Linked DNA regions of Homo sapiens: region 1 is linked to region 2. Evidence: fine-mapped expression QTL. A gene starts in region 2. The other region holds a variant in brackets. All regions are shown on one strand. Distances are from middle to middle.

Region 1 (15,577 bases), 25 kb after region 2:
GCCCACAGCCCCCCAAGCCTCCACGGCGGAGACCCAGATCATAACGTCACTGTCTCTCCCCTTTCCTCGGGCACTCTGGGGCCCTGGAGCCTGCTCAGCTGCTCTGCCCTCGCAACCCAGCAGTGGTGGCTGTAGCTTGGGCCTCCTGTTCCCTGTCTCCCTGGGTGCTATCCCCGCTCTGCCAAGCCTGCTGCGCTGCGCTACTCGGGTGCTAACCCCGCTGCCTCCCGCTTCCCCGCTCCCACTCCTGTCTGCACCGGGCTGCTTTTCACCGCGAGCCTTCTCAGTTGTCAGGAAACTCCGGTTTCACCATCAGGCCTGGGGGGTGGGGAGGCAAGTGTCACATCCCCCCACGCTGCAGCAGGACTCCGCCTCACCGCGTCCACACACAGCAATGGGGGCCGGGGCCAGGCCAGAAGGGCGCAGGCAGCCGTGTGCCCAGCCAGATGCTGGCGTTCAGCAGTGTGGGCCATGGTGCTGGACGAGGCTGAGTAGGCAAGGGAGTGGCTGTCAACACTTAGGCTGGAGTGGGCCCTTCCTTTTCCTCCCAGGCACCTGGGTGCTACTGTCGGGCCTCTCCCACATGGGCACTTGAGGTGGTCAGGAGAAACCTTCCTGCCTTCTGAGAAACCACTCGCCATCCCAGCTTGGAGGGGCAGGGCGGGGCAGGAGGCCTGGCGGCCTGGCTGTGCTTGGTGGTGGCAATGAGAGGCCTGTGTGGGCGGCAGGCGGACGGGAACAACCTGAACCCGAGCTCACACGCTGGCCCCCCTTTGGGGACCCACCCTGCCCCACCAGGTGCTGGCATCGGCCCCACCATTCAGATTGGGGAGGAGACGGTGATCACTGTGGACACTAAGGCGGCAGGCAAAGGCAAAGTGACGTGCACCGTGTGCACGCCTGATGGCTCAGAGGTGGATGTGGACGTGGTGGAGAATGAGGACGGCACTTTCGACATCTTCTACACGGCCCCCCAGCCGGGCAAATACGTCATCTGTGTGCGCTTTGGTGGCGAGCACGTGCCCAACAGCCCCTTCCAAGTGACGGTGAGGAGGGGTGGGGGGTAGGTCAGCAGGGGTGTCTGGCAGGTCCCGGCCTGTTCCCCTGGGGCCCCTCTGTGACAACAGACTCTCCAGCAGCTCTCTGCTTTGCCCTGCAGGCTCTGGCTGGGGACCAGCCCTCGGTGCAGCCCCCTCTACGGTCTCAGCAGCTGGCCCCACAGTACACCTACGCCCAGGGCGGCCAGCAGACTTGGGTACGGCCTGGCCAGCTAGGGACACTGGGGCTAGCCAGCTGGGTGTTCTGTGAGCCCCTAGTTTACCATGTGTGAGGAGGGACCCCAGATCCTCCCACTGTCCCTCACCCATGCCCTGTGTCTCCACTGCAGGCCCCGGAGAGGCCCCTGGTGGGTGTCAATGGGCTGGATGTGACCAGCCTGAGGCCCTTTGACCTTGTCATCCCCTTCACCATCAAGAAGGGCGAGATCACAGGTGAGTGGGGACTTGGGAAGGAGCTCGGGAGCCAAGGAGGCCAGACTGTGCCAATGAGCTGCCCTGACCTCAGCCCCACTGCCCCACAGGGGAGGTTCGGATGCCCTCAGGCAAGGTGGCGCAGCCCACCATCACTGACAACAAAGACGGCACCGTGACCGTGCGGTATGCACCCAGCGAGGCTGGCCTGCACGAGATGGACATCCGCTATGACAACATGCACATCCCAGGTGGGCCTGCCCTGCCTCTGCCCACTCCACCGCCACCACCTCACAGAGAGATGGGGCTGGGGGACACACGAGGCTGCCATTCCACAAGGCCCTTCTTCCTGCCTCAGGAAGCCCCTTGCAGTTCTATGTGGATTACGTCAACTGTGGCCATGTCACTGCCTATGGGCCTGGCCTCACCCATGGAGTAGTGAACAAGCCTGCCACCTTCACCGTCAACACCAAGGATGCAGGAGAGGGTGAGCAATAGCTCTGGTCTTGACCTGCTCTGTGCCCGGGATGCCCTCACCGGGGTAAGGGCTGGACTCAGGAGATACTCCTGAATGGGGCTCCCTGCCCTGCTGCCCTGGCCATCGGAGCTCCTCAGTGCAGGCCAACTGGAGTGTCCCCAGCATAGTTCCCATGCTCACCCACGGCTCTCTCCAGGGGGCCTGTCTCTGGCCATTGAGGGCCCGTCCAAAGCAGAAATCAGCTGCACTGACAACCAGGATGGGACATGCAGCGTGTCCTACCTGCCTGTGCTGCCGGGGGACTACAGCATTCTAGTCAAGTACAATGAACAGCACGTCCCAGGCAGCCCCTTCACTGCTCGGGTCACAGGTGGGTGGCACTGGGAGCAGTGACAGAAACGGGTGGCAGGGTGGGCATGGTCTCCCATGGCTGGACGCACACTGATGGCTGGCCTGTCCCCACCAGGTGACGACTCCATGCGTATGTCCCACCTAAAGGTCGGCTCTGCTGCCGACATCCCCATCAACATCTCAGAGACGGATCTCAGCCTGCTGACGGCCACTGTGGTCCCGCCCTCGGGCCGGGAGGAGCCCTGTTTGCTGAAGCGGCTGCGTAATGGCCACGTGGGTAAGCGGCTGAAGGGTCCAGGGGGTTCAGAAAGGAGGCAGCCTGTGGGGAGCCATGCCCTCCCTGACTGACAGCCATGCCCTGTGTCCAGGGATTTCATTCGTGCCCAAGGAGACGGGGGAGCACCTGGTGCATGTGAAGAAAAATGGCCAGCACGTGGCCAGCAGCCCCATCCCGGTGGTGATCAGCCAGTCGGAAATTGGGGATGCCAGTCGTGTTCGGGTCTCTGGTCAGGGCCTTCACGAAGGCCACACCTTTGAGCCTGCAGAGTTTATCATTGATACCCGCGATGCAGGTAGGCAGTGGCTGCCCACCAGCTGGGGCGGGAGCACTGTGCATAGCACCGAGGCTCAGGGGTATCCATCCCCTAGGCTATGGTGGGCTCAGCCTGTCCATTGAGGGCCCCAGCAAGGTGGACATCAACACAGAGGACCTGGAGGACGGGACGTGCAGGGTCACCTACTGCCCCACAGAGCCAGGCAACTACATCATCAACATCAAGTTTGCCGACCAGCACGTGCCTGGTGAGTGCAGCAGTGCCTCGGCAGCCCCCCTCACTACACCAGGGCCCACAGGCAGTATGTGACTGGAGGGGCGTGGGCCGTGCTTTCTTCCTGCAGGCAGCCCCTTCTCTGTGAAGGTGACAGGCGAGGGCCGGGTGAAAGAGAGCATCACCCGCAGGCGTCGGGCTCCTTCAGTGGCCAACGTTGGTAGTCATTGTGACCTCAGCCTGAAAATCCCTGGTAGGGGCTGTGGGAAGCCTGGGGAGGGGTCCTGGGGCTCAAGCAGCCCCAAGAGGAGGGGTGGAGCCCAGGGCTGCTGCTCACTAGCCCATCCCCACCCTGCAGAAATTAGCATCCAGGATATGACAGCCCAGGTGACCAGCCCATCGGGCAAGACCCATGAGGCCGAGATCGTGGAAGGGGAGAACCACACCTACTGCATCCGCTTTGTTCCCGCTGAGATGGGCACACACACAGTCAGCGTGAAGTACAAGGGCCAGCACGTGCCTGGGAGCCCCTTCCAGTTCACCGTGGGGCCCCTAGGGGAAGGGGGAGCCCACAAGGTCCGAGCTGGGGGCCCTGGCCTGGAGAGAGCTGAAGCTGGAGTGCCAGGTAGGCCTGCTCACACCCCGAGTGCTCGCTCTCCTGCGTTGGCCAGGGTGGGGTTGGGGGTGGAGGAAAGAGCCGGCAGGCATGTCTACCTTGGCTATGCCTGGAGGGGGCCGAGGCTGGTGAAGCAGCCTTCAGTGAGGACAAACTGTTCTCCCACAGCCGAATTCAGTATCTGGACCCGGGAAGCTGGTGCTGGAGGCCTGGCCATTGCTGTCGAGGGCCCCAGCAAGGCTGAGATCTCTTTTGAGGACCGCAAGGACGGCTCCTGTGGTGTGGCTTATGTGGTCCAGGAGCCAGGTACTGGGAACCCGGCTGGGGTTGGAGGAGGTGGGGCCTGAGTGTGGGTATTGGACCCAGGGCTGGCACAGATAGCCCTGCCTGGCACTCACTCTTCACTTTGAGGTCACAGGGCCACCCAGGCTGTTCGTGGGAGGTGGGAGGCCCAAAGGCTGATGAGCCGGTCTTACACTCTTTCCCTGCCCAGGTGACTACGAAGTCTCAGTCAAGTTCAACGAGGAACACATTCCCGACAGCCCCTTCGTGGTGCCTGTGGCTTCTCCGTCTGGCGACGCCCGCCGCCTCACTGTTTCTAGCCTTCAGGTGAGGCACCGAGAGAAACCGCCCACCTGGGGCTCCTGGGCCCGGACAGACCAGAGCCACCGCAGAGACCAGGCCTTGGCCCTGTGTTCAGTGACCCCCCTGGCCCAGCTCTGGGTTCCAGGCCTCTGCTCTGGCCGGGTGCAGCCCACGCTTGGGGTCGGCAGGAAATATCCTGCCCACCACGTGGAGTTTTTCTCGTGTCTCAGGTCTAAAGGCTTTGAACAGAAGCCTGTGCCCCTTGAGCACCAGGGCTGCGGTTTAAAGAGGGACAGCCTGCCAAGGCTGGGTGCTGCCCACAGGGTGGGGCAGCCCTCCCTTCCTGCCACCTGGGTGTGTGCGACGGCAGAGTGTGGGGGCAGGGGCGGGGATGTGCGCCTGTGGCTTGCTGCCCCTTGCAAATCAGTGGCTCTCCCTCTTTAAACCAAGTTGGACGCCAGATGGGTAAGTGCGACCCGCGGGCCTCTTGCTCCTGGGGCCTTTCCGTCCTCCCTTGCCCTGGC[T/C]CAAGCACCCCCATCTAACCATGTCTGCTGTGCTTCCAGGAGTCAGGGCTAAAGGTCAACCAGCCAGCCTCTTTTGCAGTCAGCCTGAACGGGGCCAAGGGGGCGATCGATGCCAAGGTGCACAGCCCCTCAGGAGCCCTGGAGGAGTGCTATGTCACAGAAATTGACCAAGGTGAGGCCCTGTCCCTGCCCGGCCGCCCTGCCCTGCTGGCTGGAAGCAGGCTGAGAGTACAAAAGGAAGGTACCGCTTCTGTAAGCAGCCAAGACGGGGCCCCAACTCCTGGGCCCCCTAAGCCAGGCAACCCTTTCCCAATTGGTGACCCAAGCCGCTGGGGATGTGGCTCGCCACCCACAGCTATTAGGAAGGCCTTCTACCCTGCAGTACCATGCCATCTCCACAGGGAAAGACTCAAAGTCCAGCCTCAGTGCTGCCCGGCCCTTCAGCCACGGCCATGGTACTTGTGCACAGGCCTGGGGCAGCCTTGTGGGTAGGAGGAGCCCAGTGGGCTTCATTTCACGGCCTAGTCCTGCCCTTCCCAGCTGCATGACCTGAAGCAAGTTCCTGCCCGTCTCTGAGCCTGTTAACATGCAGGGGATATGGTGTTCACGGTAACCTTTCTTAGGAGGCAGCAAGGCCTGGGTTTGGCTTGTAAAAGATTTCCGTCCCAATGCACCCTGACGGTGGGCAGCTTGAGTGTCTAAACCTTCGGCCCTCAGGAGGTCTGCTGCGGGGTGCAGGTGCCCAGCGTGGCTGGGCTCACACTGATGGACCGGCAAAATGGGGAGGGCCAGGGTTGAGGCTGTTCCTCACAGACACCATCTGCTGGTTTGAGGAGGGGCCCCAGGCCCACAGCATGACTCCCTGCTCCTCAGATAAGTATGCTGTGCGCTTCATCCCTCGGGAGAATGGCGTTTACCTGATTGACGTCAAGTTCAACGGCACCCACATCCCTGGAAGCCCCTTCAAGATCCGAGTTGGGGAGCCTGGGCATGGAGGGGACCCAGGCTTGGTGTCTGCTTACGGAGCAGGTCTGGAAGGCGGTGTCACAGGTAAGTCTGTCGGTGCGGCTGCACGTGTGCACACAGCTGCTAGGCCCTTGCCTCCAAGCTCTTGGTGACAACAGGAGGCACCTGGAGGTGACAAGCCTGTGCTGGGTGGCCGAGGACAGGGAGGCAGGCCAGTCTGGCTCTGCCTGACCTCCTGTGCTCCCAGGGAACCCAGCTGAGTTCGTCGTGAACACGAGCAATGCGGGAGCTGGTGCCCTGTCGGTGACCATTGACGGCCCCTCCAAGGTGAAGATGGATTGCCAGGAGTGCCCTGAGGGCTACCGCGTCACCTATACCCCCATGGCACCTGGCAGCTACCTCATCTCCATCAAGTACGGCGGCCCCTACCACATTGGGGGCAGCCCCTTCAAGGCCAAAGTCACAGGTGAGCCTGGGGCCAAGCTATTGGCATCTGCCCAACGCCCGGCACCACAGCCACCTCTTAGCCCCACCCACTCTGCCTTGCAGGCCCCCGTCTCGTCAGCAACCACAGCCTCCACGAGACATCATCAGTGTTTGTAGACTCTCTGACCAAGGCCACCTGTGCCCCCCAGCATGGGGCCCCGGGTCCTGGGCCTGCTGACGCCAGCAAGGTGGTGGCCAAGGGCCTGGGGCTGAGCAAGGCCTACGTAGGCCAGAAGAGCAGCTTCACAGTAGACTGCAGCAAAGCAGGTGGGCAACCTGGGCCCCCGGCCCACCTTCCCACCAAAATGAGGCCAGAAATCACAGGATGGCCAGTGTCTGGGAGAGCAGGGACCGCCTTTGGGGCGTGGCTTTCACTTCTAGAGCCACCTCCCTGCCACCTCCTGGACCCCTCAAACAAAGACCAGGGAGGAGCTGGAATCTGCTAAGCTGGCCTGGGTTGGGGAGGTGCTGGCAGCTCTTTAGGAAGAGAGAACTGTCACCCCAGAACTGGCTTAGGGACAGGAGAGGAGAGCAGGACACCAGCGGGAGGAAGGGGGCTGGGACCTGGGACTGAGGACCCCTCTTGCCTCAGGCAACAACATGCTGCTGGTGGGGGTTCATGGCCCAAGGACCCCCTGCGAGGAGATCCTGGTGAAGCACGTGGGCAGCCGGCTCTACAGCGTGTCCTACCTGCTCAAGGACAAGGGGGAGTACACACTGGTGGTCAAATGGGGGGACGAGCACATCCCAGGCAGCCCCTACCGCGTTGTGGTGCCCTGAGTCTGGGGCCCGTGCCAGCCGGCAGCCCCCAAGCCTGCCCCGCTACCCAAGCAGCCCCGCCCTCTTCCCCTCAACCCCGGCCCAGGCCGCCCTGGCCGCCCGCCTGTCACTGCAGCCGCCCCTGCCCTGTGCCGTGCTGCGCTCACCTGCCTCCCCAGCCAGCCGCTGACCTCTCGGCTTTCACTTGGGCAGAGGGAGCCATTTGGTGGCGCTGCTTGTCTTCTTTGGTTCTGGGAGGGGTGAGGGATGGGGGTCCTGTACACAACCACCCACTAGTTCTCTTCTCCAGCCAAGAGGAATAAAGTTTTGCTTCCATTCTCCTTTGCGTGGCTGTAGCTTTGTTGGGGTTGGGGGACCAGTCAAGGCCAACCTGACAGGGGTGCCAATGAGCAGATCAAAGCATGGGCTGAGCACAGGTCACCTCCCTCCAGGGCTCCTGCTTCACCCCACCCTGACTCCAGAAGGCACCATCTATCTTTGCTTCCTCTGCCTCCCTGAGTTCAAGCCAACGTAAGGAGAGGAACATGTAGCAACCTGGAATGGAGCCCAGGCAGCAAGGAGGCAAAGAGCTGGGCAGGAGAGCCCATTACTGGGTAGGGTGGTGTCAGGAAGGCTCCCTGGTGGAGGTGGCCAGATAATCAACAGCAGGCCCGGCCGGGTGTGGTGGCTCACGCCTGTAATCCCAGCACTTCGGGAGGCCGAGGCAGGCAGATCACAAGGTCAGGAGATCAAGACCATCCTGGCTAACACGGTGAAACCCCGTCTCTACTAAAAATACAAAAAATTAGCCAGGTGTGGTGGCGGGCGCCTGTAGTCCCAGCTACTCGGGAGGCTGAGGCAGGAGAATGGTGCGAACCCAGGAGACAGAGCTTGCAGTGAGCCGAGATCGCGCCACTGCCCTCCAGCCTGGGCGACAGAGCGAGACTCTGTCTCAAAAAAAAAAAAAAAAAAAAATCACAGCAGGCCCTGGCCATCTGCCAGGTAACTTGAACATGCCACCATGCCACCATTCCCCCAAACAAGGGACTGGGATGAGGCCCCCTCCCCCAGGCTCTGGGCCTCAGGGCCCTTTAGTTAACAGGTGGCAGGAGGTGGATGCATTCAAGGTGCCAATCCCAGGTACCCTGGGCCCCCTGCTGAATATCCCCTCATTGGTACCCCTGCCGTGGATTCCCACACCAACCTATGTGTCTCCCACTGTAAAGATTGCCCCCAAACACATAACATCCCAAGTCGTCCTGGCTCCTGGTGCTGCCTGCATGCTATCGGGACATCCCAACTGCAGCACCCAAAGCTGCCTGCTCCCTGGGCCAAAGGCTTTGGCCCTCGATCAAACCCCTGACAAGGACACCACCACCTCAGACATCTGCAGACAAGGGCCAGGAAGCAAGGCTCTCGGGGGCAACGCTCAGCTTTCTCGCCACATCCTCCCTCAGCTCCACAGCGTCTGACACGACCAGGCCGTAGCCTGCAGCCATGGCACACGTCAAACCCAGACCTTCTGAGACCTCAACACCACGCGTACCCTCCTTGACCCCTGTTGAGAGGGCAAAGTAGAAAAGGCAGCGGCAGTTCAGGCAGGATGGCTACTTTTATTTCTCACTGGGGCTGGGCTGCTGGCCCCAGGCTCAGGGCGGCCACTCACTGGGAGACACGGGGCAAGCAAGACACAGAAAGGGGAAGTCCCACCCCCAGCCGCAGCCACTCTACTGCTCCCCCTGGGCCCAATGGCATAGAGGTAAAGGGGCCAAGCACACTCTGGAAGCCTCTAAAAGCCACCAGCTGAACGGGGCTGTGAGGCAGCAGAGCCAGGCCCAGAAAGATGCAGTGCCAGTTGGGAGGACGGGAGGTCCCCCTGAGGCTGCGACTTGTCCGCTCAGCCCACTGTGTGCCCAGGATTCTGAACCTCTGGGGCACTCCCTCCTGTCCCGAGTCACCCAGGGTCTCCTGCCCCCTCCCTGTGTCTGCTCCATCACATCCCCTCTCAAGCCCCATGCCTGGCAGGGCCACCGCCCTAGGGCTGGGCTAGGTGAACCAAGGGCACCGGTCCCCCAAACCTGCCGATCGTCCCCAGGCTGCAGGGAGGGACACATGTGGGGCGGCAAGGGCAGAAGATAAACTAGGGGGATCCGGGCCCCTGAGGACAGCCCTGGCGGGAGGCCACAGGCCTCACAGGGTGGTGAGCTGGAGGCCACCCAGGCAGGCAGGCAGGCAGCAGGGAAAGAGACTGGCACGGTCCTGGCCAGGGCCCCCCCCGGGAAGGGCGGGCAAGTAGGAGCAAAAACAAGAGCAGAGCACGGGCCCCCACCCTGCCGGGTCCTATGGCCTGGGGACTCACACACACTGAGGAAGACCCAGGAGGACCCGCCAGGCTACTAGGAGGAGATAAAGGGTGCACAGGCCTCCAACCCGCAGGTTGTGTCTGGACTGAGTCCAGGGAGGGCAGGGAGGGGCGGTAGCCCAGTTGACCTTCCCTCCCCCAAGCCACACCTCTGCACCCCAACCCTCCCTTCCGCCTCCCAACAGCCCCATCCCCGCTCTCCGAGGAAACTGGGAGGGGACCTGGAGAGGAAAGGGAAGCAACGGCCCCTCAGAGCGGGGTTCCCCAAAATCCATGGCCAGGGACTGAGGCCAGCACTCAGACACTGTTGGGAACACTGGCCAGGAGTCCCTCGGGGTGGACCTGGGAACCTGCTGCAGAAGCTTAGGGGACCGGGCCAGCTCAGGAAAGGGCTCAGGCTGGAAACCGAGCAGACAGGGCACCGCTGGACCTGGGGCCGAGGAGGACAGGAAGTAGGTGACTATGGAAAGACCCCCGCCGCCACCCACGCCCAACTCGGCACACAAAGGCCCAGAGAGGCCCCCAGACATGCCTGTGGGGGCAGGGGTGTTTGCAAACATTTGCAGAGGGACCGGGTGTCCCAGGCACATGGACAGCTTGCAGGGCCCGGCTGAGGCTAGGACAGCAGCAGGTGGCTGGCAGGAGGTGCCCCGCCAGGGTCCCCAACTGTGTGGGGGGCAGGCCCGAGGCAGGCGGCACCAGTCCCGGGCAGGATCTCTCGGAAGAGGGGCCGTACCCAGCCAGGGTTCCCAGAGACACGGGTGGTGGGGCCGAGTGCCCCCTCACCCTGTGCCTGGCCCCCAACAAAGGGTGAGCATGTATCCTTCCTGGACACGGTGTCCAGGGCAGGGCACTCCCGAACCAGGATGCCCCCTAGGCCACAGGACCCCTCAGCCCCAGCTGACAGCAGCCGGGGGGGATCTGGGGAGGCCCCCAGGAGGCAGGGCGGCAGCCAAGCAGAACACCATCCCTGGACCCACTCTCCAACTGCAACCAGGGCCCGCTCCCCCGAAGGCACCAGCTCTCCCTAGGGGCAGGACCTTGATCCAGAGCAGGAGTGGAGGCCCCCAACAGGGGACGGCTGGAGAGGCCCTGGGCTCACGAGCCAGGGAGCGGCGCCTCTGTGCCCGGAAGCCCCTGGGTCCTGCCTGGGCTGCTGGTAGCTGCTGCGGGCCGAGGGGTCCGGACGCCCCTAGGGTGCTCTGGGGCAGCTCCTTTGGGACCCTCAATGGAGCCAGTAAGTCCAGGAGGGCGCCGATCCGTCCAGGTGGGTGCATGGGCCGGGACAGGGTCTGGCTGCTGTCGTGGCTGTGCCCATCTGCCGAACAGGTCGCTAGGAGAGCACTCCCTGAGCGAGGGCGCCGGGCAGCCCGGGGAGGGAGGACACAGTCCCCGTCCAGGCCCCCGAGGCCCCCATAGCAGGGAGAGCCGGCCCTCCTCGCTGTTCTTCCCGCGGGATCGGGCCGGCACCTCGGCTCAGGGGAGAGAGGGTCACAGAGGACAGCCAGCAGGCAGGTGGCCCAGGAGTGTGGGGGGTCGGTGGGCCTGACCGTGTCCTGAAGCACCCCAGGACCCTGTACCCGACACCCTGGGGGAGGGGCTGTCCCCACTTGCCAGGAACACATTCCTCAGGGAAGGCCCGGCAACCTGCTCTCGTCGGGTTCAAGAAGGGCCAGGCGGCTTTGGAAGGGGCCAGGAGCTGTCACCAAGGGCCCCCGCATTGCCCAGAGGCGGCGCGGGCCAACAGGAAAAGCACTCACCGCCCACGGAACCTCTGTGACAAACTCAGAGCCACGGAGAGCGTCATCAGCAAGTCACTTGCCAGTCCCAGTGGGAAGGATGGGGCACGTCTCCAGGGAAACGAGACACCAAGGTCTTCCTGGGGCCCCAGTGGAAAGCTCCTTCCAGGACCCACCTGGCCCTCCACATCCCACCCTCCAGGCCAGGGACCGGAGCCCAGTATCCGGCAACCTGACACATCACGGAGAAAAGGAGCTGCTCTGCCTTCACCATGACGACGCGGCACACCCCCTCCCTGCCCCGGCCCCTCCCCTTCAGGGCTGCATGCGGGGAGGAGAGGCCTCCCCTGTCTGCAGAGAGAGGCTGCCCCACCTGGGGCAGAGAGGGGACAGGGGCAGGAATGAGCCCCTGGGAGGGGGGCATTGGAGGTGGGGGGCACATCCTGCCACCCGGGCTGGCGTGGGGCACTCATGCCATGCAGACCAGAACGGGCTTCCCACCGGCTCCTGGGGATGTTGGACCGGGGCTCCCCGACCAGGGCTGGGAAAGGCTTCCATGAAGAGCCAGAGAGCACACGGCGCAGACCCTGCGGGGCACACGGGGTCTCGGTGGCAGAGTCTCCCTTCTTGGGGTTCTCTGTGATGGGTTTTGCAACCCTTTCAGGATGTCAAAGCACGCCCCGCCCTCAGAAATGCAGGCCCCGGCCAGTGTCAGCCCCAGGAGGTGGCCTGCTGCTCCCGCTGACACCAAGGACATGTTCCTGAGGCGGCCCGCTCGGGATCTCCAGCAGCCGACGCAGGTCTACACGTGCAAGGGTGCTTCTGACTCGCAGCACTCAGGAACAGCCTCCACCCTGAGCGTGGCGCCCTCTCCAGCACGCGCCAGGGTGGACCTGTGAGACCAATAAAAACCACAGCGGAGGCGAGGCGAGTCACTTAGGAGACCAGGCCATGAAGAGACTGTGGCCGGGTCTGGGGCGCCCTCTCCTGCTGGTTCGACTGGATTGCAGGTCCGGGGGAAGCCCAGCAGCCCTGGGGAGGAGGCCCGGTGGGGAGGAACTGAGGCCTCCTGCCACAGCCTCCAGAGGGAGAGTCATCACGAGGGCTCCCCACCCAGTCAGATAGGATGGCTGGGCCCCAGTGGACACCTGACCGCAGCCTGAGAGGGACCCTGAGCCACAGTCCTGGCTCCCCGAGAGCCCTCCCAGAGCCTGTCCCTCAGAACCCTTGGGGGGGTGACACGAGTGCTGGGGGGGTGAGACGAGTGCTAGGTGGGGAAGGACCGAAACGTGAAGTCGTCTGTTACCCAGTAGTCGGAACTGGTGCCCAGCGTCCAGGGGGCAAGACACGGCGTGAGCCAGAAGGAAACAAACCGACAAGAACCCCCAGAAGCCATCAGGAAAGCCTGGAGATTCTGATGACACGAAAACTAAAATCCCCTCTGTGACCAAGCACAACCCGCAAACCACACAGTCAAGAGACAAGTGATAATAAGGGGAGAAAATAGTAGCAAGAGGTGACTAAGGGCTCGCGTCAGTCACACACACACAGAGCCGGACACACGGACAAGGCAAAGTGCAAGGACAAGAGAGCAAAAGGGGGCGGAGGAGAGGAAGGGAGAGGGAAGGAAGCGTCTTCTCCACCGGGATGCAATTCCTTGGGAGCCCGTCTGACCCCAGGGCAAAGAGATGCTGGGTCGCCAGAGCCGCCGCGGAGAAGTCCCGCCGGGCCTCAGAGCCCAGCAAAGAGGAACCAGGGCGGACGGGCCAAACCCAGCGGCCGGCTCCCGGGGGGGTGGGTGGTGGCGCTGCGGGGAGTCGCCTGAGCAGCATCACCAGCAGCTGGGAACCCTCCCGGTGCGGGAAGGTTGGCGGGTAAGGCGGGGCTTCCCCGGAAACACTGGGCTGGACCCAGCGGTCCCATGGGTGCTGGAACCAGCCCTGCGGGTGTTCCCAGGCACCCTCCCGCGGGAAGACCGGCTGGAGGGATGGCTCCTGTTGGCACCCACGTCGAGGGAAGCCACCGCCTTCTCTGCGGGGCTCGCCTTTCCTACCTCCCCCAGGAGACAGTCAGGCCAGGAAGCGCCCCAGCCCACGACCGCCCGCAGCAGAGCAGGATTCCCTCCCCGGCGGCCGCCGCTGTCAAGGGACGGGGAAGACTTTGTTACCCCACCGCGCGCCACCGCGGAATGGTGCACAGACACCTCCAGACGCCACTTCCCCCAAGACGGCCGCCCGCCCCGCTCTGCCCACCTCTCCCTGGACGCTGCCGGGTGGGCGCGGCCCTGCTTCCCCACGACCCCCCAGACGCGCCCCGAGGCACTTTCGCAGCACAGTGGAGTGGGAAGGGCGGGGCGGCCCCTCGACGGCGCCGAGGCGAGAGCGGCTCACGGGGCTTCCCGGGCCCTGATCTCAGGCGACGCCTGTCCGCCTCGTCCCCGGGGGAAGACAGTGACCACCGGTCTGCAAAGGAAGGGGACTCGGCGCATGCCCCGCAGGGCCGGCCCAGGACTCGCAGGCGCGGAAGGCGGTGCCGAGGCGGGGGCGGGGCGTGGAGGGACAGCCCTAGTCTCCGCCCGCCGGGGCCCACAGCTGCCTCGCTCCCCGCCTCCGCTTCGGTCGCTCCTGGTAAGCTCCAGGCGCCCACGGGAAGCCCCGCCCAGCCCCGCCTATCCGTCCTCCTCTTCGCCTGTCCTCGCCAATGACCATGCTCAGATTGCACGGAATTCCCGCCCCTCGCCCTTGACTGACGCTCCTGCTGCCCAGTGGACGACACCCCGTCGCGTGCGCGCCGCTGCGGCCCTGCCGGGTGTGGCGCGGCGCTCTCAGGCTCCTAGGCGTTCCCGGGGCGAGACCCAGGGCGCTGGCCGCAGAGTCGCCGGTGCACACGCAACAGTGCCGCCTTGTGTTTTGGGTGTGGACCTGCGCTTCTCTAAGCGTTCCATTCCCGAGAAGGGGCGACAAACGTCCAGAGGTCGTGGCACCTGCCCGCCGCTGCCGGGGCGTCGGCCGTGGGCGCAAGTGAAGCGCCCCGGGAGCGCGGCGCGACGTCCGTGCCTTCCGAGGGCGGCCCGGGTGTCGCCGCGGTGCGCGCGGGAGGGCGCGGCCGTGGGCATTTCCGCGCTTGCGCGGGTTCCTGTCCCGCCCCGGCCCCGGCCCCGGCCCCGGCCCCGGCCCCGGCCCCTCCCTCTCGTGGCCCCGCAGTAGACGCAGCCCCTCCCTCCCGCGGTGCAGCGCAGCCAGGGCTCTGCTCCGGGAGTCATGGAGTCCATCACCGCGGAGCGTTATCTCAGCGGACCCACGCGGTGTCCTCCGCTGGGGTGGGCCGAGTACCCTCCGCCTCCCGCCCGCGAGATCCATCCCAGCCCCTGGCGGGGGCCCGTGGTTCTTCCCGCTCATGGCCACGGAACGGTCCACGCTCGCGGAGCCGCAGGCTGAGCTTTTGCTGGTGAGGGACAAGGTCGTGGTTTCCCGTGGCTGGTGGCCCTCACGGAGGAGCCTGCTGGGAGCACGCCCGTGTAGGGTTTCCTGTCATCGGGTTGCCACGCCCATCTTGAACGCTCGAGTCCACGCAGAAGTGTAGAAGTGGATGTGTAGCTTTATTTGTAATTCTCTTTCTTTCTTCCTTTCTTTCCTTCTTTCTTTCCTTTTCTTTCTTTTTGAGTCAGGGTCTCACTCTGCGCCCAGTCTGGAGTGCAGTGGCGCGATGAGGGCTCACTACAGCCTTGACCTCTCCACCCCAGCGAGGGCTTCAACCTCCAGCCTCAGCCTTCCGTGTAGCTGGGACTACAGGCGCACGCCACCACCATGTCCGGCTAATTTTTTACTTTTTGTAGAGATGGGGTCTCGCTTTTTCGCCCAGGTTGGTCTGGGATTCCTGGGCTCAGGTGATCCACCCCAGCCTCACAAAGTGCTGGGATTCTGGGCACCGCGCACCGGCCGCCGCGCCCGGCTTGATGTGTAGTTTCAATAGAAACCACCAAGGTCTTCAGGGTGGCCTGTGCATCACTTTACACATACTCAAGCGAATCATTGAGAGGTGTTTGAGGCCGGGCGCGGTGGCTCACGCCTGTGATCCCAGCACTTCGGGAGGCCGAGGCGGGTGGATCGTTTGAGGTCAGGAGTTTGAGACCAGCCTGACCAACATAGTGAAACTCTGTCTCTAATAAAAATATAAAATTAGCCGGGCGTGGTGGCGCCCTCGCCTATAATCCCAACTACTCAGGAGGCTGAGGCAGGAGAATCGCTTGAACCCAGGAGGCAGAGGTTGCACTGAGCCGAGATCGCACCACGGCACTCCAGCCTGGGTGACAGAGCAAGATTCTGTCTCAAAAAAAAAAAAAAAAAAAACGTTTTTGAAACAACTTGAAGCAAGTTATCCCATGTATAAAAAAGCATGAAGTTATTTATACTATTTTTCTGTGCAATCACCCACATAATTAGCCAAGTTAAGACCCATTATGCGGCCGGGCGCGG
Region 2 (10,481 bases):
CTGCGCGCGAGGGACCCGGGACGTGCGAGCGGGCGAAGTCGGCGCTTGGGGTGGCTCTGGTCCCTAAGTCGCTTGGGCTTCGCCCGATCCCTGCACATCCCTACTCCCCGCCGTCGTCCCCCTTCCCAGGGCCCCAGAGCCTAGGGTTCCCCGGCCGCATCCCGGTCGGCCGCCCCAGCAGCGGCGGGAAGGGCCCGGACCCTAAGAGAGCGCGGGCCCCGGGCCAGGCGCTGCCGAGGGCGCTTTGTGTGCGCATCGCCCGGGAAGCGGCTGCAGGGCAAGGCCCGCGCCTACGCGATCCCCGCAGACCCCCTGCCATGGGCCCGCCTTCCCAGTCTGCGGGGCTCTCGCCCGCGCACATGTGCCTGCTGCTTACCACCGCCTACCCCTCTGCTTCCCTTCCTCCTCCCTCGCTCCACCCGGGAGGAAATGGGGCACTGGGCCAGGAGGCCGCTGGCACTCCAGAAGCAAGCAGTCTTCGAAGGGGCCCGGGCATGCCGACGGGCACGCCAGTGGGCGCGGGCAGAGGGCGCCGTGCGATGCGTGCAGAGACGACGTGTGCCCGCCTAACCCTTCATGCCGTTCATTCACCCGGGGCACTGGGGGGAGCTGAAGTGGGGCGTCCTCTCCTGTCGGAATGGTCCCTGAGCGCAGCGTGGCTAGGCAGGGGGCAGACGTGGGTGGCGAGCTATGGATTCCCATTCCCAGGGCCTTGATCAGATATTGGCTGTCTCATGGAGAAGAGAAAGGAGGTGACATTCATCATTCATATTCTTTTTTTTTTTTTTTTTTTTTTGAGACAGTCTCGCTCTGTCACCCAGGCTGGAGTGCAGTGGTGCAATCTTGGCTCTCTGTAGCCTCCACCTCCCGGGTTCAAGTGATTCTCCTGTCTCAGCCTCCCGAGTAGCTGGGAGTACAGTCACATGCCACCATGCCTGGCTTTGTATTTTTAGTATTTAGTATTTGTATTTTTAGTAGAAACAGGATTTCACCATGTTGGCCAGGCTGGTCTCGAACTCCTGACCTCAAGTGATCAGTCCGGCTCGGCCTCCCAAAGTGCTGGGATTACAGGCATAAGCCACCGCGCCTGGCTGTGACATTCACATTCTAAACAAAGCCAGCTGAGGGTGTATGGAATCAACTAGTGTGCCCCTCACTGGGTAGGCCCCAAACTGGGAGCATGAAGAGGTGACATGCCATCTGTAGTTTCACAGTTGAGGGCTGGTGACAAGGGAAGAAGAGGGGAGGGCTCTGGTCATGTCCAGAATGGCTGGCCTGGCTGGTGAGGGTCACAGACCAGTCATCCATGGAGGTTTGCCCATGGGGTGGGAAGAGGTAGACACCTGGGGGAGTAATGAGGAGATGGGGCCCTGTTTTGACTACACGCAAAGATCCTAACAAAGAGGAATCACTGTTGGCAAGGCCCCACTGTGTCCCCAGCAATATGGAAGGAAGTGTGGGTCCATGAAGACAGTGCCTGGCAGTGTGCAGCAGGAGAGCCTTGGGTAGGGCAGGGGTTTGCACCTCATCTTTCAGAGCTGAGGGGACAGATGGCAGTTTGGACTCTGGGCTGCTCAGAGGCTGCCTTGTGGATTTTTTAGTTTTGACAAAATCAGATTCCCCAGCACCTCTGCAAGCCTTCTGCAATCCTGGCCCCTCTCCCAGAGGCCTCTGTGTACTAAGTGCTGCTCCATCCTCCCCCATGCCACCCCTCCCCATACGGATCCAAGCTGTTTCCTTATGAGGTCAAGGAATTCTAGATTTGCCTTCTCCCTAAGGAGCACCCCCCACCCGTTCTGTACCTGCCTCGACACTCTGCCTTTTATGTCCCACCCCTTTGCCCCACAATCAGGTCCCACCACAGATGGCACCAGGAAGCTGAACTGTGATGGTCCCCCTGCACCCACCCTGTGGGTACCTGGAGCCTAAGTCCAGCCCCATTGCAGTGCAGCTCCACTCCAGACCACTGGAAGCCAGGCAGGCTCCTGAGCAGCAGAGCCTCCATCTTATACAGGGAGAGTCAGGACCCTGCGATCAGGGGAGACTTGTCCAAGAGCCCTGAGTACAGCAATTAATTCATGGAACATTCCCCCACCAGTACCTGGTCCCTGGGGGTGATGACCTGGACAGCCTCAGAGAGTTTCCCGTCAAGGGTAGGGTGGGATTTGCAGTCATCAGAGGGTCTGGGAAGGGCGTGTGCAGGAAAATCTGAGGGCCTCAGGGGGTTCTTCCTGGGAAGTGCAGGCAGAGGAGACATCGGGATGCAACCAATTCTAAGTCAAGAATAAGAAAACTGAGTTGCTCCTTAAGGATGGAATGGCTTGCAAGCAGTATATGCTGTATAACTTACAATCCCAACATGATTGAGTTACGAGGAAAAAATATCAACATGGAAACATTCCTCAGTGTCTATGACAAGTAGATGATTGTTCACTGAGCTGTTAACGTTATTTTTTTATTTGTATTTTTATTTTTATATTTATTATTTTTTTCCAAGACACAGTCTAGCTCTATCACCCAGGCTGGAGTGCAGTGGCGCAATCTCAGCTCACTGCAACCTCCGCCTCCCAGGTTCACGCGATTCTCCTGTCTCAGCCTCCCGAGTAGCTGGGATTACAGGCGCCTGCCACCACGCCCAGCTAATTTTTGTATTTTTAGTAGAGACCGGGTTTCACTGTGTTGACCAGGCTGGTCTCAAACTCCTGACCTCGTGATCCACCTGCCTCAGCCTCCCAAAGTGCTGGGATCCACCACGCCCGGCCTTTTTTTTTTTTTTTTTTTTTTTTTTTGAGACGGAGTCTCTATCACCCAGGTTGGAGTGCAGTGACGTGATCTCGGCTCACTGCAACCTCTGCCGCCCGGGTTCACGCGATTTTCCCGCCTCAGCCTCCCGAGTAGCTGGGATTACAGGCGCCTGCCACTGCGCCCGGCTAGTTTTTATATTTTTAGTAGAGACGGGGTTTCACCATCTTGGCCAGGCTGTTCTTGAACTCCTGACCTCGTGATCCACCCACTTCGGCCTCCCAAAGTGCTGGGATTACAGGCATGAACCACCGCACCTGGCCTTTTTTTTTATGTTTAGTGACAGGGTTTCACTGTGTGACCCAGGCTGGAGTGTAGTGGTGAAATTATAGCTCACTGCAGCCTCAAACTCCCGGGCTTAAACGATCCTCCCATCTGTCTCCTGAGCAGCTGAGACTACCGGTGCACGTCACCACGCCCAGCTAATTTTTATATTTTTGGTAGAGATAGTGTCTTGCTGTGTTGCCCAGGTTGGTCTCAAACTCCCGGGCTCAATTAATCCACCTGCCTCAGCTTCCCACAGTGCTAGGATTATAGGCATGAGCCACCATGCCCGGCCAATGTTTTCTTTAAGATCAGAATCTTCTTAATACTAAACAAACTTAACTTTCTCGTCCCCCTGAGCGATCCTGTTTCTGCTGCCCACCCCAGGCCAGACCTGGCAGCGCCTGATCCATGGCAGTCAGGTTCATCCCAGGGCTCGGAGCCCTGCAGTCCCGTCCCGGGGCCCTGCCTGACGTAGGCGCCCAGCCAACACCTGCAACGACCTGTTGCCCCCACCCCAGGAAACAATCCCGGCTTGGGACAGACACCAGGGGCTGTGACTGTGGGTGGCTCCTTGGAGAAGGTGGCCTTGGGCCTCGGCCTTTCCACCTGGGGTGCGCTTGGCTCCCCCAGACTCAGACACGCAGGATCCTTGTGATTGGGCCTAGACACGAGCCCTGCAGTCCCTGTGGGCGCTGGAGGCGACTCCCCCACGAAGCCCTCCCTCCCCCAGGGCCTGGCGGCCCTCGCCGGCGGTGAGCTCATCTCGGGGGGCGGCGTCGCCCGGCGGCGGGTCGCTGGAGCTCACGGCGTGCCCCCGCACCCCCGCCCCCCACGCACCCGTCCCGGGCTCCTGGGCAATTTTACCAATTAAGGCTTTCTCGCCGGGCCGGGCCGGGCGCGGGGCGGGCGCGGGGCGGGGGTGCGGCCAACAAGAAGGCGGGCGGCGGCGGCCCATTCGCGTGGAGGCGCGTCGCGCGCAGCGGACGCCGACAGAATCCCCGAGGCGCCTGGCGCGGGCGCGGGCGCGAAGGCGATCCGGGCGCCACCCCGCGGTCATCGGTCACCGGTCGCTCTCAGGAACAGCAGGTGAGGTCTCCGCGGCCCGGCTTCGCGCCGTAGGGTCGCCGCGCTCCTCGTCGGCCGGGGGCGGGGTTGGAGAAGGCGGGCAGAGAGGCCGGAAAACGCAGGCGCCAGCTCGCGCCCAGGTCCGGGCCAGGTTCAGCTGGGATGCGTGAGCCGATGGAGGCTCCCCTGGCATCTGGGAGTGAGTGTCCAGAGAATAGCTTCCCTAGTTGACCCACGAGCCATGTCTGTGCCCACGAATGTGGGAGCCTGAGGCCATGGGGGGTCCCCGAGAGAGAGAGGGTGTCTGGGCACTTGCCCATGAACGGACCACTGCATGCCTGAGAGAGAAGGGCCCTGACACCAGGAACTTGTGTGGACTCAGGGCGAGTGGCCACCTGGAAGGACACTTCTCAGCCAGTGTGCCCACTGGGAGGGGGACAGCGTGTCCCTTGCTGGCTCGAGTCCACAGGGCACCAGCTGCTTTGGGCACAGGGGAGCTGGTTCTGGGGCTGCTCTACTCCATGGGGGCCATGGTGAGGATGAGACCAGGCCAGGTTCCTTGGTTGGGCCCTGGGCCCTATGCCAGGTTGGCTCTGAGTTGGATGCGCACTGCCAGCCAGGATATAACCAACAATGTCCCCAGATTCCCGTGCCACCTGGGGCCAGGCAAAATAGGTTAAAATCCACTGGCAGACCCATTTGTAAGTGCTCCGAGTGCACCGTCAAGGTGGGAGCTTGGGAATGGGCGACCTCACCTGCCGCACCTGGACTTGCCAGCACAGGTCTCTTCTCACCTTGCCAGTCTGCGGCTTCCTTCCCTCCTGCGCCCCCTGGCTACGCAGGCCTGGAAACAGCTCCTTAGGGATCCCAGCTGAACAGCTCCTGGGCTTGGGCTATACCTCCCAGTGGGAGGGTCTGGCCTGGGGTCTGAGGGCCAGGGGTGGTGTGGTGGGCGGGGTGTGCCTAACATCCAAGAATCTACTCCAAATAAGGGAAAATATGAAAGAGCTGGATTTTGGCTTCCCAGGACTGCCCGATCTGGTGGCTTTGGGATCGGGCGACATCTGGCGGTTGATACTATGTTCTAGGGACAAGAACCCTCTACACGCCCATTCCTTGTTTCCTCTAAATAGGGAAAAGCTAGGGCTGGAAGACACGGCACCCACCTCCTGACACTCTTTCTGCTGGAATTGACCACTGGTCACTCTGACTCAGTTTCCCTGAGCTCTGAAGATTAAGGAATGAACCCAGACAACCCAGCTCAATGGCCCTTAGTGGAGAGAGAGTCAATTATTGATGGAATTCCGTGCCTGGGAACTTGCTTTCCAGTGGGGCAGGGGGACCAGAAGGACAACTTCAAGCCCGTCTTGAATGGGGCCCGTGCAGGGAGGGGTCTGTATGGGTTCCCCCTTCCCAGCCCTCCCTCCCACCTCCACCCCAGCTCCCAGACGCCCAGGCGCACTTGGTGCAGGTGTGTCTCAAAGTGGTCAGGAGAGGGGACAATATACAGGGGTTGGCCTCAGTACTGGAAAATGCCATTTGCACCCCCTAACACCACTACTAGTGGGAAAAACCAGTGGGGCCACAGGCTGCCCCGAAGTGAATGTGCTGGGCGGATCACAGCCCCACCACGTGTCATGTAGACACCCAGGGCTACAGGAGAGTCAACCATATTTGGGCATGACGTGCTGGCCAACCCAGGGCCTCCATCTCTCACTGGTCTTTAGCAGATAAATTAATTATTACTAGAATTGAACAGGAGGGACAGATACCTGCCTTCCTAGAAAAAAAAAAAAAACACTCAGAGGAGGAAACATTCTGGAGAGGGGAGGTACCGAGGACTGAGAGGGAGGGGAGTGCACAATGGGGAGGAAGCCATAGGCAGGCTGGCTTCTGACTGAAGATAGTAGCAGTGAGCGTCCCCAGCCGTCCCCTGGTCCCAGTCTACATCTCGGCACAGCAGCCACTGCACCATCTCCAGAGTTATCTACCAGAAAATTTTGAGTGAAGAGCCCCCACAGCTCTGGGGACACAACCCCCCAGGCCCCTGATCCCTGTCCTCAGGCCTCCTCTGCACCTGCCACCACACCTGAAGCCCACCCAGACCCAGGTGCTCAGAGCCTGACAAGTCTTATGGGAACCTCTGAGCAGGCCCCTCTGGGTCTGGAATGCCACTCCCGTGTTTGCCCCCTGCCCTGGCCACGCTGGGCTGAGGGGACTTTCCGACAGGAGAGGACCCCCCGCTTCAGCTCCCCCCAGTGCCCCGGGTGAACTGGCATGAAGGGTTAGGCGGGCACACGTCTCTGCATGCATCGCACGGCGCCCTCTGCCCGCGCCCACTGGCGTGCCCGTGGGCATGCCCGGACCCCTTCGAAGGCTGCTTGCTCCTGGAGTGCCGGCGGCCTCCTGGCCCAGTGCCCCATATCCTCCCGGGTGGAGGGAAGCAGAGAGGGAGGCGGTGGGAAGCAGCGGGCACAGGTGCGCGGGCGAGGGCCCTACGGACTGGGAAGGCGGGCCCGTGGCAGGGGGTCTGCGGGGACCGCGTAGGCGCAGGCCTTGCCCTGCAGCCGCTTCCCAGGTGATGAGCACACAAAGCGCCCTCGGCAGTGCCTGGTCCGGGGCTGCCGCTCTCCAGGGGTTCGCTCTTAGGGTTGGCCCCTTCCCGCCGCTGCCGGGCCGGCGGACGGGGATGCCGCCGGGGAACCCTAGGCCCTGGGGGCCCGGGGAAGGGGGATGACGGCGGGGGGTAGGGATGTGCAGGGACGGGGCAGAGCCCAAGTGACTTAGGGAAGAGAGCCACCCCACCCCCCGCAGGGGCCCTGGGGAAGGAAAGTCCCTTGTAAGGCGCGCCGGCTGCAGGCCAAGCAGTCCCGCGCCAGACACTGCTCAGCCTTTCCTCGCTCTAGGGCGCGTTTCCTGCAGCGCCAACGCGAGGCTGCGGGGCTGGGAGCATCCTTGCCCACCCCACTGCCCAGCGACCCACCCTGGAGCCCGGGTTTCGCGTCTGATCAGCCGAACCCGGGGGCCTAGTGGGGGCATTCCAACGGGCGGGGCGGGGTGGGGCAGGCGCGCCCTCGAAGCCCCACCCCACGGCCCCTCCCCGCAGGAGGCCCGCCCTCTGGCCCCGCCCTCCTCCCGCATTTAAAGGGCTCGCTCTCTCCGCAGCGCAACCTCTGCTCCCTGCCTCGCCTCCCGCGCGCCTAGGTGCCTGCGACTTTAATTAAAGGGCCGTCCCCTCGCCGAGGCTGCAGCACCGCCCCCCCGGCTTCTCGCGCCTCAAAATGAGTAGCTCCCACTCTCGGGCGGGCCAGAGCGCAGCAGGCGCGGCTCCGGGCGGCGGCGTCGACACGCGGGACGCCGAGATGCCGGCCACCGAGAAGGACCTGGCGGAGGACGCGCCGTGGAAGAAGATCCAGCAGAACACTTTCACGCGCTGGTGCAACGAGCACCTGAAGTGCGTGAGCAAGCGCATCGCCAACCTGCAGACGGACCTGAGCGACGGGCTGCGGCTTATCGCGCTGTTGGAGGTGCTCAGCCAGAAGAAGATGCACCGCAAGCACAACCAGCGGCCCACTTTCCGCCAAATGCAGCTTGAGAACGTGTCGGTGGCGCTCGAGTTCCTGGACCGCGAGAGCATCAAACTGGTGTCCATCGGTGAGGGACGCCCCGAAGCGCCGGGCGGGCGGGGGCGGGGACTCCGTGCGTCCTTCCATCTCCCCGGGCGGACCCCTCCAAACCACCCCCTTCCGGGCCGCAGCGCAACTCCCGAGGCCTCCGGCTGCTCTGCTCCACGCGGGCCTGCAGAACAAAGGCGCGCGGGCTGGCTGGCTGGCCGGCCGGGCGTGCGAACCGCTACGCGCCCCCGCCCGCTGCGCCCCGGCTGGCCGGCGCCCAGGCTGAACTCACATCCTCCGCAGGCCGCGCCTCCGCGGCTGTGCTCGCGGTGGGAGTGGGCCTGGGGGGTCGGGCACTGGGCAGGCTCCTGGCCCTGCGCCCCGTCCCCGAGGAGGAGGAGGCCCGGGCTCTCCCCCCACAGCTGTTTAGAGAGGGCCCTCTGGCCTTCAGAGGCCCGTTGGTTCTGAAGTGTGGGTTGGAGCTCGTGCGTCCCATTGTCTGGGGCTCTGGGCTCTTTGTGTCCCTGGAGGATGGGTCGCCCATCGGAGATGGCTCCAACCACCAGTTTAGATCTACCCCCCCACACACACACAGGCAACCTGGGGGCCAGAAAGAAGCATAGTTAGCAAAACTGCACCCGGGGTGAGTTGGGCGTGGTTGACTGAGAGACCTGGCTTGTAGACTACTTGGACGCCAACTTTTCTCTTCATCTTGGGCCAAACTCTTGCTTCCATGTAGGCCTTGCTTTTCTGCGTGTAGCACGCAGGAGTTGGTTGGTAGATGCTCCAGCGTGCATTGTGCCAGCCCAGTGTCTGTGTCACTGGACTGGAGAGGCTGGCATTGACCAGGCCTGCTGCAGCAGCCCAATTCGTTCTCAAGATAGGGGCTGCATGAGAGGGCAGGCCCCAGAATGGGTGACTCGGGGGTGATGTGGAACAGGGAGAGGAGAGGGATGATGAGTCTTCTCTTCTTCAGAATTGAGAGGCCTTCCAGTTACCCTGCAGCCCTGGAATGGCCCTTGCTGAACCCAAGAAAGTGAGGGACCAAGACTTGGGTTCCCCCAGCCACTCAGAGGGCAGATCCCAAGAACCAAAGTTCTTTCTTTGGAATGCCAGTTGAGGCGAGGGGCAGGCCCACCCCCACAAGTCCCAGCCTCAGTCTAGCCAAGCTGAGTCATCTCAGTCCTGGATGGTAGGGGGGGCGACCGGATGTGGGGAGGCGGGCCACACCCCAGCTCTTTAGGGGGGGTCTCCTCCCTCCTCCCAGCTCCCCTCCTCCTTGTGAGCTGGCTGGAGCAGGCCTAGTTCCCAGAGCTTTGCCATATAAGGCAAAAAAATGTTGGAAAGCAGCAGTGATTAGGGGAGGGAGGGGTTGGCTGGCCCAGGGGCTGGGGAAAGGGGGGTGGGATGGGGCGGGGCCATCCAGCCAGACAGTCTCCCAGCCCTGGGCCCTGGTCCTTCCCTCTCTCTTTTGGGAGGGGGATGGGGACGGAGTAGGCTGGCCTAACATGGACCTGGTGGGCCTGGTTGCTCCCCGTGTGGGGGTCGTTGAGGGGTCTGAGGCTGGACTGGGGTGGGGGCCTGATGGGAAGCCCTGGCTGGCCTTGTTCCCTGGCCCTGCACCCTTGGTCCTCTCCGAGTCCCCCTCCCTGCTGCCATTTGGGGAGAGTGAAAGGCAGCCTCGTGGGGCCAGGACCAACCTGGGAACTGGGGAGGCCACTCTGAGCGGCTCACCTGGCCCTCCAGGTGCTGCCTGCTGGGCTGGGAAGCAGCTGCCATGGACAGCCCAGCCCCTCCTCATAGGCCCGCCCCCTAGTTGACTCACCAGAGAAGTATTTTGTCTGATTATGGGGGAGGCTGACAGGGCTTCTAAAGATGAGCCATCCTGCCTTGAGCCTGAGACCCAGAAGTAGCCTTGGGTGGGGCCCAGAGCCCAGCAGGGTTGCCATGGTGATGGGGGGTGTCAGGGACCCGCCCTAACCACTTCCCCTGTGGCGAGCCTGCCGAGGCCCAGAGGCCCGTTAGGTGGCAAGTGGGTCAGGCAGTGGGTGGCAAGGGGGTTCCCAGTGTCTCCTGCTGCCACCCCGGCATCTCCCGATGGGCCCCAGTGAGTCAGGGCCATGTGGCCCAACTGCTGGTTCCTTTGGGCTCTGGGCCCCTCCCCTGGCTAGGCCTGTGGCCTCCCAACTCCAAGCTTGAGTCTTCGAGGTGGTAGAGGAAGTGGGGGTGGTGGCGGGGGTCACAATCCCTCACCCAAAGGGCGTTTGCCCAACTCCCCCACTTCCCCTGCCTCACCCCACCCACCCTGGAACAACAGTTGTATTTCCCAACCACCCAGGGCCACCCACCTTCCTCTTCCTCAGCCCCAGCCCCACTCCAGGTCATGGGCCCTGGATTCTGGGCCAGCTGGAGTCAGCCTCCTCCTCCTGGTTCCCCATAGGCCCCTGAGGTGTGTGGCGGACCCCTGCTCTGGCAGCTGTGGACACTGTCCAGCTGTTCTCCAGAGCTGCCCATCTGCAGGCTGGGTCTGCCCTCTGCCCTTCCTCTGGGCCCAGGGCTTCTGGCAGTAATCATACCCTGCTGGCATCGTGTGTGTGTGTCTGTGTGTATCTGCCCTCACCCCAAAGTCTCCTTCACCTCTGAACACCCCCTGGGACCCTGGGCAGAGAGGGCCTCATCCACATCCTACCACTGGCCAAGAGGGGGTGTCTACCTCCTCCTTGGCCCCTGCTA

What was found.
Region 1: its variant is fine-mapped to the expression of FLNA in whole blood (TOPMed, PIP above 0.99).

The regions. Positions count from the first base shown.
Region 1 is chrX:154,340,294-154,355,870 of GRCh38, reverse strand. FLNA (filamin A) reads left to right here. Exons shown (of 48, transcript NM_001110556.2): 31 at 799-1,046; 32 at 1,160-1,255; 33 at 1,388-1,490; 34 at 1,580-1,720; 35 at 1,828-1,956; 36 at 2,144-2,317; 37 at 2,414-2,575; 38 at 2,667-2,870; 39 at 2,947-3,099; 40 at 3,196-3,318; 41 at 3,424-3,690; 42 at 3,850-3,987; 43 at 4,175-4,290; 44 at 4,830-4,962; 4 more. The coding sequence ends at 7,022. Among named protein-coding and RNA genes, the nearest start is that of FLNA, 27 kb to the left of the region's middle. RefSeq lists enhancers at 8,118-8,207, 8,238-8,377. The variant T/C (reference allele first, on the strand shown) is at 4,791.
Region 2 is chrX:154,368,180-154,378,660 of GRCh38, reverse strand. It overlaps FLNA (filamin A), which reads left to right and starts at 4,027. Exons shown (of 48, transcript NM_001110556.2): 1 at 4,027-4,155; 2 at 7,300-7,788. The coding sequence starts at 7,416. RefSeq lists silencers at 3,941-4,080, 4,091-4,150, 5,693-5,752, 6,696-6,915, 6,926-7,055 and 7 more and enhancers at 5,240-5,289, 6,474-7,115, 7,121-7,646, 9,229-9,754, 9,676-9,815 and 1 more.